Linked DNA regions of Homo sapiens: region 1 is linked to region 2. Evidence: fine-mapped expression QTL. A gene starts in region 2. The other region holds a variant in brackets. All regions are shown on one strand. Distances are between the middles of the regions. Region 1 holds the start of LOC105371442 (a long non-coding RNA gene). Region 2 holds the start of S100A10 (S100 calcium binding protein A10).

Evidence for each region. PIP is the estimated chance that this variant, and not a neighbour inherited with it, causes the effect.
Region 1: its variant is the best candidate, but not a certain one, in a credible set for the expression of S100A10 in aorta (GTEx, PIP 0.59).

Annotation. Positions count from the first base shown.
Region 1 is chr1:152,022,320-152,027,698 of GRCh38, forward strand. LOC105371442 (a long non-coding RNA gene) reads right to left here and starts at 5,269. Exons shown (of 3, transcript XR_001738235.2): 1 at 5,172-5,269; 2 at 4,321-4,500. It also overlaps the pseudogene NBPF18P. The variant A/C (reference allele first, on the strand shown) is at 2,404.
Region 2 is chr1:151,991,742-151,997,120 of GRCh38, forward strand. It overlaps S100A10 (S100 calcium binding protein A10), which reads right to left and starts at 2,118. Exons shown (of 3, transcript NM_002966.3): 1 at 2,011-2,118. RefSeq lists an enhancer at 158-1,357 and silencers at 1,926-2,225, 2,236-2,285, 2,416-2,545.

The DNA.
Region 1 (5,379 bases), 31 kb after region 2:
GCTTTCAGTTGAATGGTGACCCATGCCTAGATGTTCATGTGTCTGCACACATTGGGCTGACTATGCTTGCAGAATGTGAAGTGAGAAATATCTGAATGAACATTCCTGTATTTACAGAAAATGATGAAGATGTGGATGACGATGTTTACGTTGAGGAGGCTGAGAAAGTGCGGGAATCACGTGCCCCCAGGTAACACTGAATAATCAGGAGCAATAATGGGTGGTAACATATGAAAAAGATCTAGGAGGCACACTCTCTCTGGCGTCTACATTGGGCCAAAAGCCTGCATTCCCCTGGCCACAATATGTTAAATTCAACCCAGCTTAGACACAGGGTGTGGCAGCTGTTATGGTTCTCTGTGTGTGCTGAGTGTCATGTCTGTACCATACAGGGATAGCTGAGTCTCCATCCTCCTCAGCTCCTATCTGCCCAGTGCAATGAACACCAGCTGCTGTCTTCCTCTTTGGCTCCCATAGCAGCCATGCTCTGTTGCAGAGAGTGGAGGAGTGCCTGTTCCCTCTTAAAGGGAACCTCCTGTTTGCTTTCTGGGACCACTCTCTTATGCTTCCTGTCAAAACTAGCTAGGACTCCCTGAGGTCCAATCCCTCTCTGTTTAATCTTCTGTTATGTCTGTGTCACCTGGCTCATCAGGGAGGTGCGAAGCCTGAAGAGAAGGAATTGATGAAATGATCATACAGATATGTATATTGCATATATCTATGCAATATACATATTGCATCAATATCCCATGATATTGCCGGCTCAATGAGGACAGAGTCCTCTCTCTATTATGATTTGGATTTGAAGGGAAGATGCCATGGGTCCTAAACATCGCAGCATGACCAGCGTGTGCTGCCCACGACCTGCAGTGCCATGGTCAGGTGGAAGTCATTTTACTTCAGTAGAGGACAGTGTTCTCTTCTGACCTTTTCCTCAGTGGCTAGATCTGTATCTCTCTCTCTCTTCTCCCATCTGCCCTCCGTTCCCTGCCCCGCTTTGTTTTTTCTCTCTGTTCCCACCCTGCTGGCCCCTTCCACCTGTTTTCTTTTCTTCAGCTTTCATCGTTCACCCCCCTCTGCCCACCCATATGCCCCAGGCTAAGTCCCCTGCACATTCCTGGGGAGGGGCGTAGATGTGTATGGTTTTAGGCAGTGCCCTCTAGATGTGTCCATGATGGGGAAACATGGCTCAGCTGCCAGTATAATGCTTTAAAAGAGTGGCCACTTTTGAAGGCCTTTTACATCTAGGATCCTCTATGACTTAAAATATATGGGCCACATTGGAATTCCTTGTTCCCCAGGACCTTGCAGTGGATGCCTTCTTTCACTGAGCATTCACAGGGTGCCTATTAGGTGCCAGGCCCTGCTCTGGGCTAGGGGCTCCATTGTGAGCAATCCTCAGTTCATTGCCACATGGAGCCCACCTCTGCAGGCATCAAGAGGGTGGGGCCGTCAACCACATCTACCAGTGCTAAGCATCAAGGACAATGAAGGCTGAGAATAGCCTGCTGGATTTGGCTATATGGTAGGTAAGGACTTGTTTGATTCTGGGGAAAGCAATTTCAGCAATGGGGAGGAGAAAGCAGCCTTGTTGCAGGGAGCTGAGGATGCTTAGTAGTGAGGAGATGAGGAGAACGGTGAGCTAGCATTTATGAAGCAACCTTTGCTTCCTATGTGATAATTACACTTTTCCCAACTTTCAGATTTGTGTTTCTTCCCTTGCCAGAAGTTAGTCTCTTTACAGACTGGACTTGCAACTTTCCGGAGTCATTGTCTTTGCTTGCATTCCTACCAGAATCCCTAGTGACTCTGCGGATCATGTTTAATGATAATGTTGACACTAAGTCATTGTGAGGGTAAAATATGAATCTGGTAACAGAAACGTTTTTCTCGGTGGAGAGAGGTGGGGCCGGGAACCAGGACTACTGATGCTTCTCTCTGCCCCCACTGTCTAACTTTACAGGCAGCTCAAATCACTCAGAATCCAGTTTGCGGCCAGTGCAGACTTGCCTCTCCCTCCCAGTCTTCTTTCTTGGTGGTGACTGGGAGAGATTTAGGAGATTAGGGAGGGCCAAGAAACAAAGCATGAATTATCACGGTTGCTGCACAGGTGTGGTCCTCTCAGTCTCTCTGCCTGAATTCCCAACACATCTCTCACCAGGTTGCTGGATGGTACAATAGGGTCATTGTAAGGTGGGTGGGTGCAGTGAGTCAATGAAGTCTTCCTGAGGTGCAGGGGGGCAGGGAGGGATCCTCTCCCCTATAGCCGGAGCTGGGTCACAAATTGGTGGTGGAATGCCCAGCTTCAGGGTCCATTTGCACGGCTGTATATTTCAATTATACACTTGGTTCTTTTTTTATATATATATACTTTTGTTCTTGTTTTATGCATTTGATCTATTG[A/C]TTTATTTGACCATTTTAAACACACTCATGCTAACATCCTTCCAGATTGCTCTCCCTCTTGTTACTCAGTGTGAAGTCTCTAGTCTGTTGTATGTACTTGTCATCCCTCGTGTGCCTGTGAGCCTATTCTAAGTGTATTTATCTCCTGTGGACATCCTCCAAATGTCTGGAGGCATCTCCACGAGGTGGTTTTGCATTTGTCTAGGGTTTTATGGCGCTTACAACTCTGGGGTAGTTTTTGTTTTATTTCTTTAATAGCATGTGTTTGAACCCCATGCCTTCTGGGAACACAGGTGCAGTGCTCTGATTTCTCTCAGATGACTTTGCCTCGCTCCAGGGCTCATTCTGTGTCTTGAGAGGTGGTGGACTGAGCTTTCCAGTCTCCATCAGTGACAGGGCAGCTCTTTAGCAGCTCTCTCTTTTCACTAAGAGTTCAGTTCTAGTTCTCCACCATGGCCTGGGCCACGTGGCCTCCGCTCTGGGGCACCGTGACAGCTATCAGTTCCCTTTGTGCTTCCGGCACCTGAATAATTCTCTTTCTGCCTTTTAATTGACCAAGTATTTTAACTTTTTGAGGGGAAGGGGAAGATTCTATGTTATCCAGCATTATTTGCGGTAGGAAAGGGGCTTTCTATATCTGCTGCATACTAAATTTTGGCAGAAGTCCTACCACCATGGCCCAAATCTCCATCAAAAGAGATAGATATTTGCTTGATTTTTTTCTTCTTGTTTTTCTTCATTAAAAAAATGTACATTGGATTTAGCTATGATTTCTTGGATATGACACCAAAGCCACAGGAAATGTAAGAAAAAAACATATAAATTGGACTTCATCACAACGAAAAACTTTTGTGCATCAAAGGACACTATGAATAGAGTGAAAAGGCGACCCACAGAATGGTAGAAAATATTTGCAAATCACATATCTAATAAGGGCTTAATACCCAGAATATAAAAAGAACTCCTACAACTCAACAAAAACCAAACAACCCAATACAAAATGGGCAAAAGAATCAAATAGACATTTTTCCAAAGAAGATATACAAATGGCCAATAAGCACATTGAAAAGATGCTTAACATCACCAATCTTTAGGAAAATGTGAAAGGAAACCAAAATGAGATACTATTTCACATTCATTAGGATGGCTATTATTTTAAAAAGAAGAAAATAGCAAGTGTTGGTGAGTATGTGGAGACTTTGGAAACCTTGTAAGCATTGCTGGTGGGAATATAAAGTGGTGCTGCCACTGTGGAAAGATGTATGGTGGTTCCTCAAAAACTAAAAATAGAATTACCATATGATCCAGCAATTCTATTTCTGGGTTGTATTCCCGGAGACTTAAATCATTATTTATACACCTGCATTCATTGTAGCACTATGCACAATAACAAAAGGTGGAAGCAACCCAAGTGTCCATCAATAGATGAATGGATAAACAAAATGTGGCACACACACACACATACACACAAATATACACACAATGGACTATTATTCAGCCCTGAAATGGAAGGAAATTTTGACATATGCAACAACATAAATGAATCTTGAAGACATTATGCTAAGTGAAATAAGTCAGACACAAAAAGACAAATGTTGTATAATTCCACTGACAGGAGGTACCTAGAGTAGTCAGATGAATAGAGACAGAAAGTAGAATGATGGTGACCAGGAGGTAGGTGAGGGGAGAGAGGGAAGTTATTGTTTAATGGATGCAGACTTTCAGTTTGGGAAGATGGAAACGTTATGGAGGTATTGGTGGTGATGTTTATACAATGTGAATATACTTAATGCTACTAAAATGTACACTTAAAAAATGGTAACAGTGTTAAATTTTTATGTTCTGTATATTTAACCATAATAAAAAAATTTAAAATTTTCAATAACTCAAGAAAATACACACACAAAAAAAGTCTACCTGAATTAGTGTTGTCACTTTACTCTGTGTTCCCCTTGGTGGCAGGAGTAGCCATGCGGTAGAAGAATACCAATCTCAGCTTTCTGCAGTGTGCTGGATATTCTGTTTGCTCCTCCAGCTCCACTTTTGGTGCTTCTCTGCCCAGCTCAGACTTCCAGTAGGGTGGACCAACAGGAGGCACTTGCAGGCGATCAGAAGGTGGGAAGAGAGAGAAATCAATATTTATTCCCCGGGGTCCCTCCTGCCAGGCTGTGGTTTGACAGTGGCTGTATTTCTACATCTAAGGCCACAGCATCCGTGAGTGGCCCCTCTTCCTGGGCTATATGGCTCTTGAATTCCAATAATTTCTCCCTTGCCAGTCAGGCTGAGAGGTGGGAACAGCATCCTAATTTTGCTAGTCCTGGTGCTTTGCCATCTCTTGTTATTTATCTTATCTCTTACATCTTCATAAATAGTGCATTCCTTAAATTCTCTTCAGTGACCCGTTTGAGTGTGCATGTGTTTCCTGTGGGAACCCAGACTGATATACATGGTATGTCCCACATCTGGTATAGCATTCTCTTATCGCTTATTCATGTATCATATATTTTTTTCATTCAACAATTTTTTTTTGCTACTATATGCTGGGTACCACATTAAGTCCTAGCAATACAAAGATGCCTTTAATTAGGTCTCTGTTCTTGAGCTCAAAGTCAAGTTAGAAAAGACAGACAAGTAAGAACACTGTAAGTAGAGTGGCAAGTGCTATGATAGAGGCAAGAATGGAGTGCTCTGGAGCATAGAATAAGAGCATTAAAATCAGCTTTGGATAGGGGTCTTAGGAAAGGCCTTCTTGGGGAGATGATACTTACACTGCTCTACAGGGCAAGTAGAAACAGGTGGAAAGGCGGCCAAGGCCTTTCAGGGCAGCAAGAAGAGCGTGTGTCAAAGCAAAGAGGCACATCACTGTGACATCAGTTCTAGCCTTGGTTGGCAAGGTGGGCAGGGAGCAGACCACAAAGGCTCTTGAGTGCTCCAGGGAATCCTGTATATTCAGAAGGTCCAATGCCTGGTTTTACA
Region 2 (5,379 bases):
TGGACTGTGTCCAAGGGTATACCAAGTGGGTTGTGCTCTACAAAAGTCACATTTTTTGAACTGTCAGTAGAAAGCAGGGAGGCACACAGTCTCAGCTCCACCCTGACCTCACTGGAGTGGCTGCTTAGGAGGCTGGCCAGCACACGGGAGGAAAGGGGCCTATATGATGTGTCGGAGAAAAGCTAGGAAGAGCATCACCCAGAAAGCAGGGTAAGACCCAAAAATTGCTTCATGCCCAGTAGACCAAAAAAATTGTAAGAACCTAGATAAGAAACTCCAAATGGTGGATCAAGGGCCACAGTGAAGAAACTATCCTCTGGCTGTGAAGGAACAAATACACCATTTGGAAGGGATGATTAAAGAGAAACTGGATAGGAATCTGTGGGGGCAGGGCCGATGAAGAAACTTCCAATAAGTTATATGAACTCATTCCCACTCCAACCCCTGGCATTATCTTTTGCAATTTGCTGAAACATGTTGGAGGCAAAGATCACCGACTGGGTGTTTCCATGAGCCTGGCCTCACCTAAAACGCACAACATAAAACTCCATTCCTGGAGACTGAAACTCAAGCTTCTGGGGAAAAATATCCGCAACAACTGCAAACCTCTTAGCGGGAAAAGCTACCTCCCAAGTAAGGCTGAGGCAGGCTGCCAGGCGCATACTGGCCGATAACGAAAAGCGGTCTCGCCAAGGCCCTGCAGATCTAATTACTGCCCTCACCGGCAGTTCAGTCGAGAAACCTCTCCTGCAGACTGGCAGCCAGACCAGGTGTGACTCACTTCCTCTTGGAAAATGCCCTCTGAGATGGCACAGTTCTCCTTTTCCTTCAGGGAGTGTTCTGTCCAAACCATCCACCGAGAGTATCTGCAACCGGCCACACCCACATGGTCTCACAGCTGAGTCACAGGCCTCAGACCACTGGGAGAATCCTGGAGCCCTTTGTGCTAACCACGCCCTGCAGAAGCTCCCGCAGAGACGGAACTGGGTGGGGGCAGAAAACGGGGTGGGCTTAATGCATCCCAGAATCTGGCTTAGGGCTCCCCTGTGCTGGCCTGGCTTGGAGCGCTCTGCATTCCACCCCAGCCAACAAGGCAGAGCTCCTGGTTTCACTTAGGCAGAGCTGGACTGAGGCTGGACAGGCAGCAGTGTCCACGGCTAGGGGCAGCGCCATTCCTTCGGCCAAAGCACAGGTGGTGAACCAAGTACCAAAGGCACGTCTGTCTGTTTCACTGCACCGGGCCAAATTAATCTATGATTGGAAGATCCTTCATCAAGCCTGCTCTTCCTCCATCTCTTTCTGGTTCCACTTATTAAGACAGCAAGGGAACCCTTTCAGTAGAGAAACCACGTCACACAGGGCCCTCTCCCACAAACCCCAGCCAAACTGCTGTAGAAAGAAAACAAGTGGACCTCCCTCCCTCAGCAGGAAGACCCTTTCCGTCGAGCAGACAACAGGAAGCCCCGACCAGAAACGCCTGTTTGGCCGACGGACTAAGGGTTACGGAAGGGACGCCCCAGCTGCCTACTCGTCCTACCCGCGCCTACTTGGGCGGTACAGCCGGGAGCAGGCTACGAACATGCAGACCCGGCCTGCGAGCGGAACCCACCAAGAAACACGCCAGCCAGGGCAGGGGCGTGTAGGAGGGATTCGGTAACCCGAGAGACGAGTGGGAAAGTAGGAAAGGTGGGAGTAAAGCAACGCAAACATAAAGGGAGGAGGGAAGAGGTTCAGGCGCACCAATACCACGGTCCCCTCCTAAAGAACAAGTGCCCCCTCCTCTGGTCCGCGTGGGTCTGGGGGCGGCCGCGCCCGGGCCGGGGAGGGGCGCTGCTGGCCTCGTTTGGGTGTGGCCCGGAGCACTGAGCAGCGGATTCCCCACCAGCCGCTCCCCGCCCAGCCCCGCGGTGCTCCGGACGCCCCGCGAAGCCGGGTGCAGGGTTTTCCCCGGGCAGCAGGTCCGGGCCTGGGGACTACCCAGGAGGGGCGCGTGGGCCGGGCGGAGCTCACCTTGGCCGAGGCGCGGCGGACGCTGGGCGAGCTGGGCGAGCTGGACGCGGGGCGGAGAGGCGAGCGCGGCGGGCTGTGCGCCTTCCTTAGTACGTGCGGCGGGTGGGTAGAGGGAGGCGGCGCGGGAGCGGGAGGAGCCTGGCGGGCGCTCGGCAGGGCGCTCCCCCAGCCCTGTCTCCTCCCCCTCTTCCTGCCCCCGACTCCCCCGACCCCGGGCGCGCGGCCCACGCCCTGCCCTCGCTCCCGGACCCGCCTCGCAGAGGCCTCGCCCGCCCCAGACAGAGCGTTCTTGTAAACTTCTCTTCAGTAGAAACGGTCCTGCTCTCGAATATTTCAGGGCATCCCCACCCTGAGCCTGCCCTTCCTCTCGGGTTTGGTTTTAGAAAGTGTACAAATCAAAGAACCCGGCCGTCCTGCGGGTGGGGCACGCTGGCGCAGAACCAGAGGTAACCGGCTCTGCGGCCACCTACGGGTCTAGGAATTACTTGCTGGATGACCCTGCAGGGAGTGGCACGTGGAGTCCTATCGACCTCAGAGGCACTATCAGATTAGCCCTAGGAGGTCCGTCTGGGGGTCTCGGCGGCCTGCGCCAGTGGAGGGGCGGCACCTCCCCAGAAGCCGGGCTTCCCGCCCCACCGGCCCGCGAGGTGCCGCAGGGAGGGTGCGGTTTGGCTTGTCAGCACCCAGGGGCGTCACAAACCCTTTGTTGAACAGGGGATTTACCCCTTTGTGTGGCGTCACTTGATCAATAGTTCAGTTTCAGTGTGGCTAATAGTGTTAAAAACTGGCCGGGCGCGGTGGCTCACGCCTGTAATCCCAACACTTTGGGAGGCCGAGGCGGGCGGATCACCTCAGGTCAGGAGTTCAACACCAGCTTAGCCAACATGGTGAAACCTTGTCTCTACTGATACAAAAATTAGCCGGGAGTGGTGATGCGCGCCTGTAATCCCAGGAGACTGAGGCATGAGAATCGCTTGAACCTGGGAGACAGAGGTTGCAGTGAGCCGAGATCGCACCACTGCACTCCAGCCTGGGTGACAGAGTGAGACTCTGTCTCAAAAAAAAAAAAAAAAAAGAAAAAAGAAAAAAAGAAAAGAAAAAGGTTAAAAACTAAGTTTCCAAGGCAGTATGCTGTGGTCCTTGAAAAGTCCTTTAGAAGAATTTTCTGGAATAAATTTAGAGAAAACCTAAGTGTTTCCTAGGGGATGCTTACCAACTCCTCGCCCCTCCCCCGCCCGCCCTCTTTTATTTTAATTGTGACTCAGGGTTAAATACAAACTACTAGCAGCTGTTGGTGGAAAAGAGCCCAATCCCAAACTCTGGGGTTTTCCTTTGTTCCCAAGGGAGGCCTTGGGAGGAATGAATGATCCTAAAGGAATGAGCAGACCTGGGGAATCCTCCAAGTGCCACCTCTGACTAATATTGGCTGTTGCCAGGAAAACCCAACTTGGATTTCAGCTATTACTTTCCGTGCAACCCTGGTGCTGACTATTCAAGGGGACAGCTCTTCAAGATCTTCCTGTATACAGTACTTCCCAGTCCCCAGGTCACAGTCACCAGTGGAGGAAATCTCGGATCCCTTTTGTTGCAGGGATTGCAATGCGACTGGGTTTAGAATGGGAATGCCTGGGTTTGCGTACCCCTACTCATCTGATTTCTTCATCTGGTCCACAGACCTTAGGAGTGCTTTAGTGTATGTGGTAGGCCTGGGAATTCAGGGATTAGAGAATCAGTCTCTTTCTCTGAAGAGTTCCAAGTATTGGGCGTTAGATAAGCAAACAATTAAAATCCAGTGTGCTTAGTGAATGGTAGAGGATACTATTGGATACTAGGAGAACACTGAGGAGGGGCTTCCAAGTCCTCTTGGAGTGGTCACAGAATAATTTCTGCAGGAAGCAACATTGGGTAGAAATTTAAAAACAACAATAACACTTATTGTAACTTTTTAATCTGTACAAAGATTCCATTCTTAGAAGGCTTGGAAAATATATCAATGTATAAAAAATGATTTATAAATACATGAGCCAAAGATAAACATTTTCATATTTCTAGTCTTTTTATGCATATGTAACAAATATTTGCATAATTGTGATCATACTGATTATAAAATTAAGTACAGTCATTCACTGCATAACAGTGTTTGAGCCAACGATGGATCATGTATTCAGCAGTGGTTCCATAAGATTATAATAGAGCTAAAAAAATTCCAGTTGCCTAGTGACCTTGTAGCTGTCTAGCGCAATACTTTACTCATGTGTTTGTGGTGATGCTGGTGTAAACAAACTACTGTGCTGCCAGTTGTATAAAAATATAGCACATACCAATTATGTGTAGTATGCAATACTTGATAATGGTAATAAATGACTGTTACTGCATTATGTATTTACTACACTATACTTTTCATCATTATTTTAGAGTGTATTCCTTCTACTTATTAAAAAAACAGTAAAACTTAAAAAAAAGTTTAAAAAACAGCCTCAGGCAGGTCTTTCAGGGGGTATTCCAGAAGAAGTCATTGTTATCACAGGAGATGTGTGTTTTTGCCCTGGAGACCTTTCAGTGGGACCAGATGTGGAAGTGAAAGACAGTTATATTGATGATCCTGACCCTGTGCAGGTCTAGGCTAATACGTGTGTTTGTGTCTTAGTTTTTTTTTTTTTTTTTGTGTGTGTGTGTCTTAGTTTTTAACAAAAAACTTAAAAAAAAATAAAAATTTTAAAAATAGAAAAAACTTACATAAGAAGGATATAAAGAAAGAAAATATTTTCTACAGTTGTATAATGTGTGCTTTAAGCTAAGTGTTATTACAAAAGAGTCAAACATTTAAAGAATTTACAAGTTAGGCTGGGCGTGGTAGCTCACACCTGTAATCCCAGCACTTTGGGAGGCCGAGGCGGGCGGATCACGAGGTCAACAGGTCAAGACCATCCTGGCCAACGTGGTGAAACCCCATCTTACAGAGAAAGAACTAGCCGGGCGTGGTGGCACGCACCTGTACTCCCAGCTGCTTGGGAGGCTGAGGCAGGAGAATCGCTTGAACCCGGGAGGCGGAGGTTGCAGTGAGCCGAGATTGTGGCAGTGCACTCCAGCCTGGAGACAGAGTGAGACTCCATTTCAAAAAAAAAAAAAAAAAGAAAAAGGAAAGAAAAAGGAATTTCCAAGTTTATAACGTAAATTTACAGTAATCTAAGGTTAATTTGTTATTATTATTTTGGTTTTTTGAGACAGGGGCTCCCTCTGTCGCCCAGGCTAGAGCATAGCAGTGTGATCTCTGTTCACTGCAACCTCCGCCTCCCGGGTTCAAGTGCTTCTTGTCCCTCAGCCACTCGAGTACCTGGGATTACAGGCATGTCCCACAGCGCCTGGCTA